Regions from separate parts of the Homo sapiens genome. Here region 1 is linked to region 2. Evidence: fine-mapped expression QTL. A gene starts in region 2. The other region holds a variant in brackets. All regions are shown on one strand. Distances are from middle to middle. Region 1 overlaps MYO1D (myosin ID). Region 2 holds the start of ZNF207 (zinc finger protein 207).

Region 1 (2,914 bases), 160 kb before region 2:
CAAGCCAAATTTGGCAAGAAGCCATGTGGAGACACTTCACATTTAAATCTTCTACGAGACTGGGGGCAGGGAGACAAAGGTTCCTCTGGGGCTCTCAAATCCAATTGGTGATTCCAGAGAAAATGGGGACTCTTCATGGCAGGCAGGAAAAGGGGAAATGTGGCCTGAGAGAACCCACACTTTCCCAGCCAGCAAGCTCCAGCCTGGATCAAAACAACCCATTTCTGGGAACTTAAAATAAAAAATAAGAGAGCAGTCAAATGAACTTGAGACCCCCACAGGGCCTTTCATGTGTCTACCAGCAGCAGCATGGTGAGTGGTTTCTGTGATGTGGGATTCCAGGGCAAGAGGCACTGGACCATGGCCACTGGTTCATCTCTCATTATAGGCCAGAAATAGATGCCCCATCCCAGGAAAAGGGAAATAAGGCTGCATGGAATGTTTCATCTGTTGGAATATTGTTCTGCTCTGCCTGACAAGATTACTGAGTTCTCAGTTCTGTAGCAATGGCATTGAGTAAGAGTCTGAAAATTGATGCATTATGTACTCGCTTAAAATAGCAAATGCAGAATAGAAAAAGCAAAGCTGCTAGGAAGTGTGCAGAACATATTGATAGAAAGGCCTGCTTTGCCTCTGTCATTACCAGCATGAAAGTGTGTATCGGAGCAGGGGGTAGACTTTCCATCAGAAGCATCTGAGCAGTGGAGGCTCTTTTACCGCAATGAGACAAGGGTACATTTTTTTAGCTGACATAAGTGAGTGTAAATCTTTCTGTTCTCAAACAGGTGGTAGAAAGTGGGCAATTTGTTTCTTTTCATCTCCGTGTTCTGGGCTTGGTTTATGAGATAGCTGCCTCTGTTTTAACTTCTTTGAATTCCCCTCAGAACAAAAATCCCCCACCACCTGCTACTTAATCAAATATTCTTCACTGTGGATTATAGTTGCCTGGATGGGAGCAAGGTTCAGTGACAGTGTGATGGAAAATATCCAAAAAGAACTATGTCGTCAGCCCCAAGAAGAAAGCATTATCCTTTGTCCTTAAAAATGGGATTTAAGGCTGGGCACAGTGGCTCACACCTGTAATACCAACACTTTGGGAGGCTGAGGCAAGAGGATTGCTTGAGCCTAGGAGTTTAAGACAAGCCTGGGCAACAAAGCGAGACCCTGTCTCTACAAAAAATCAAAAAATTAGCCGGGCATGGAGGCACATACTTGTGGTCCCAGCTATATAGGAGGCTAAGGCAGGAAGATGACTTCACCAGGAGGTGAAGACTGCAGTAGGCCATGGCTGGGGGACTGGGCGAGACTCTATGTCAAAGAAAAGACAGGAGGAGGGAATTTAAAAATACTGAATAACAAGTTAAAAAGTCCTTCTGGAATCGACAAGCCTTTTTGCCCTGGAAGGTGGCATAGTTGCTTCTTAGGGGAATATCCGTGGTCAGGGACAGAGGCCTTGAGAGGCTGGGCAAAGGTCCTTTCAGCCCTGGTTTCATTCGTCTAACCAGCATTCCACTCTAACAGCCTCCTCCATTCAAGCGCTTACTCCATTAACAAACATTAATGGGGCA[C/G]TTACTCGATGCCAGGCATGGCACTAGCCACTGTGCATATATTTTCTCCTTTAACTCTCTAGAAAAAAGAACATTATCCCTGTTCATTATCCCAGTTAAGGAAACTGAGTTTAAAAGGATTAAGTAACTGCCCAGAGCCAGACAGCTAGATTTGAACCCTAAACTATTGATTCCAAACCTTGTATTCTTCCCACTATGCCTCCATTGTCTCCTCTTTTGATTAAGCAACATTCCTAGAAATACAGGGAACCTGGAAGGCCCCTGTCCGCATCTCTTTCCTGCTGCTGCTGCCAGCTGGAATGTCTGACTCCCGGATGTGTTATAACTAAACTTCTAAAAGAACGATCAGTATCTGAGAAAAATCCCTTTTTTCAAGCTCAGCAAGCAATGTGATGTACTAACAGCCCCTCATCGTGATTCAAACTAACTATAATTTACCCATTGTTGTTGGACATTGACTAGTTTCCAAATTTTTATAGGTCACCACGATTTTGGAGAGTGTGACCTGCTATTTGCAAAGCAAGGATTAGACTTTCCCTCCTTTCCCCTTTATAATTTGCACTATTGCTTCTAAGAATAGTGTTTTTTAAAGTTTGGACATTTTCAGATAAAGATTGCTGGAAATAATAGTGTGAAAAATATTTTTTAAATAAAAGACTAACATTGAATAAAAAGATAGAAATCTTGGGCATCCGCGGTGGCTTACACCTGTAATCCCAGCACTTCGGGAAGCCAGTGTGGAAGGATGGCTTGAGCCCAGGAGTTCAAGACCAGCCAGGGCAACATAGGAAAACCCTGTCTCTACGATTTTTTTTTTTTTTTTTTTTTTTTTTTTTTTTGAGACAAAGTCTTGCTCTGTCGCCCAGGCTGGAGTGCAGTGGCACAATCTCAGCTGACTACAATCTCTACCTGTGGATTTAAGCAGCTCCCTGCCTCAGCCTCCCGAGTAACTAGGATTACAGGCACATGCCACTATGCCTGGCCAATTTTTGTATTTTTAGTAGAGACGGAGTTTCACTATCTTGGCCAGGCTGGTCTTGAACTCCTGACCTCATGATCTACCCGCCTCAACCTCCCAAAGTGCTGGGATTACAGACATGAGCCACCATGCCCGGCCAAAAAAATTTTTTTAATTAGCATGGTGGTGTATGCCTGTAGTCCCAGAAGGCTGCAGTGAGCCATGCTCACACCCTATACTCCAGCCTGGGCAACAGAGCAAGATCCTGTCTACAAAAAAAAAAAAAAGAAAGAAAGAAATCTTAAGGCGTTTGGGGTGGGTGAGAATGACAGCCAGGTTGCTGAGACACAGCTGTGCGGGCAGGCTTACCATTTCAACTCTAAATTTT
Region 2 (2,914 bases):
AAGCGGACAATAAATACAGAAGAAAAATCCTTACCTGCATGCAATGAATAGCTAAGCCAGGTCCTGTATACAATTTCTTGTGACATATATGGCATTTAAAATGCTTTGCTTTTTGGTGCTGAATAAGGATCTTCTCATCATCAAAATCTCTATTACAATACCTGATCAATACTGTTAAGGCACAAAGACAGCCTAATGATGACACTGCCTATAATAAAAACATATGGATAACATTACAATATGGGAACAGCTAAAACCAAAATGGTACTGTATAGAAACTCTGCTTTTTATATTTATTACACAATTAGGGACTACACTTGCCATGTTATTTCAGTATTTTCAATTTCCTAGAAGGCCAGCTCTCTTCACCACCCCAAAAAACACATCTCAATAATCAGCAATATACTTTGTCAAATTCCTGTGTTTAACAGAGATGTCGGTGAAACTTTTGTTATAAATATTTCAACATTTACAAATGCACACTGAGGACAGGAAAGAGTTCAGTTAAGAAATCCCTAAGGTTCTGTCAAGACAATTACTTCACTAGATATGAAGACGATAGCAATAACTGGATTAGGAATTTAGCAATATTTAGAATCTAAGAGTAACTATATGGTGAACAATAATCACATAATTTCGAATGAACAATCCATAAAGTTGTTTCCAATTCCGTATGAATTTATGTTGCCAAGCAATGTATTTAAATTCACAGATCAATAAAATCAATAAAGCAGAATTCTTACATCAATAAAACAGAATTCTTACCTCACTACTCAGATTTTCCTAAAATCACATTACAAAATTCGTAACCGTATTTAAGCTATTTTTAAAACTGTTACATAAACGCAGTACTGTAACAAGCCGCCTTTACGTACAAAACAGTAAATAAAATCAATTTTAATGTAAAGAATATTAACGCTTCCAGAAAAAGCATTAATACCACACTGTAGTAAGAGTTTTCCTAATAAGATAGGCACTTTTTAGTCCTACAAAGTTGGGTAACAGAAACTCCGCCCTGTGAGAACGCTTCCTGAAGATTAAGGCGCCTCTGGGTGAGACACGGAAGCTAGTTCTCCTCCCGCCCCGAAAAGAAAAAAAAAAAAAAAAAGGTTCGAAACCAGGGTTGACTAACTTGGTTCTTTACTAAACCGCCAATTCGAAAAAATAAACACAAAACACACATAAAGTAAATAAAAACAGAAAAAGTGGGTGACAGACTGTGAAGCTGTCCCCAACCCTCCATGAAAGTAATAAGCCTATCGCACTCGAAGAAAAGTCCCTTGTTGAATCGTCACCAAAACAACGGAAGGTGGCTGAATAGTCCCTAGGGGACACTGTCCCTGGCGGAGGGGTCCAGGCCGCCTCCCGGAGTCCAAAATTCGCACCGAACAAGATCCTCCTGAGTCACAGAGTCACACGACCCACAACTGCAAAAGCCTGTCGACCTCGGAACCCCATTTTCCTAGAAGCCTTCCCAAGTCCAATCCCAGCCACCAGGCCACCCACGCAGACGCCTAAATACAAACGCTCCACGCCGTAAGCCAAATCCAGGCCTCCTAGTCCCAGGCCCCAACAACCGGCACCCCAACGCGACCTCGACTTCAAACCGACAAAGGATACCAGCACCACGGCTTCAGCTGCTTCTTCTTCTTGCGACCCATAACTGTGTTCTACCGGCAAAGTAAAAGGGAGGAGAAAAGAAGCAGGAGAAACGAGGCCAAAAATCCCTCACTTTCCCAACCCAACGGCTACCACCACGTCCCACAGGAAGCAGACACAAAATGGCCGACGGCCTCGTTCCCCGCTCCGCCTCCCGTCAAGCACTGCGGTAGGAGGCGGAGCCAAGAAGGGGAGGGTCACATGACGCAGACCTCCGCCCTGAGTGGGTGGGACTAAGAGGCGCGAAGAGGTGGCAGCCATCTTGTCCGTTTCAGAGTTTTTCGCTTTCGCTGGCTGTGCTTGCGGAGCACTTTGGGTTTCATTTGTAAAGGAGCCGGAGCCCCAGGTACGCTAAGGGGCATGCGAATGGAAAACAGAAAACAAAAAAACGGAAAAGATTGCCAGTGCAGTTAGGGCCGATCACAAATAAAGATAGAGACAGCGCCCAATTTTAATTTTGTTTCAATTGAACAGTAAATGTTGATTATGTGCCTATTAAATGCTAAACCAAATAAGTTAGTCTCTGCTTTGTAACTCGCAGATTGGTGACAGACGAGTACACAATGCAGAGTTCTCAGTGCGGCGTTGAGGGAAATGCGAAGTGCTGTAGGACCTCAGAGAGCGGGAGTCCTAGGGCGGCTGTAGTGGTAGTGGTCGTTGGGTTGTCAAGTAAAGTTTTGTTTTTCTTTGTTTTGTTTTATTTTTCTGAGACCAAGTCTCGCTCTGTCTCCCAGGCTGGAGTGCAGCGGCGCGATCTCTGCTCACTGCAACCTCCGTCTCCCGGGTTCAAGCGATTCTCCTACCTCAGCCTCCCGAGTAGCTGGGACTGCAGGCCCGCGCCACCAAGCCCGGCTAATTTTTGTATTTTTAGTAGAATGGGGTTTCACCATGTTAGCGAGGCTGGTCTCGAACTCCTGGGCTCAAGTGATCCGCCCGCCTCGGCCTCCCAAAGTGCTGGATTGCAGGCTTGAGCCGCTGCGCCCGACATAAGAAAGGTTTCTTGAGGAGTCAACGGGAGCAAGCAAGGTGAAGGAAAGGGTATCTCCGTAAGGGAGCAAAGAGTTTAAGTCTTTGAGGCTGGGCACGTGAAAAACTAATCGTGGTAAGACTGGAGCTGATAGCCGGGCGCGGTTGCTCACGCCAGTAATCCCAACACTATGGGCCAAGGCCGAGGCAGGCGGATCACTTGAGGTCAGGAGTTCGAGACCAGCCTGGCCGACATGGTGAAACCCTGTCTCTACTAAAAATACAAAAA

What was found. PIP is the estimated chance that this variant, and not a neighbour inherited with it, causes the effect.
Region 1: its variant is the best candidate, but not a certain one, in a credible set for the expression of ZNF207 in whole blood (TOPMed, PIP 0.74).

The regions. Positions count from the first base shown.
Region 1 is chr17:32,513,733-32,516,646 of GRCh38, reverse strand. The region is part of intron 21 of MYO1D (myosin ID); the gene reads left to right. All of the region lies in intron 1 of LOC105371734 (a long non-coding RNA gene), which reads left to right. Among named protein-coding and RNA genes, the nearest start is that of CDK5R1, 28 kb to the right of the region's middle. RefSeq lists enhancers at 114-163, 234-403, 1,284-1,333. The variant C/G (reference allele first, on the strand shown) is at 1,569.
Region 2 is chr17:32,349,033-32,351,946 of GRCh38, reverse strand. It overlaps ZNF207 (zinc finger protein 207), which reads right to left and starts at 1,790. Exons shown (of 12, transcript NM_001098507.2): 1 at 1,621-1,790; 2 at 35-161. The coding sequence starts at 1,661. It overlaps MIR632 (microRNA 632), which reads right to left and starts at 1,838; the gene lies at 1,745-1,838. It also overlaps a transcript of C17orf75 not described here. RefSeq lists enhancers at 1,701-2,050, 2,221-2,340.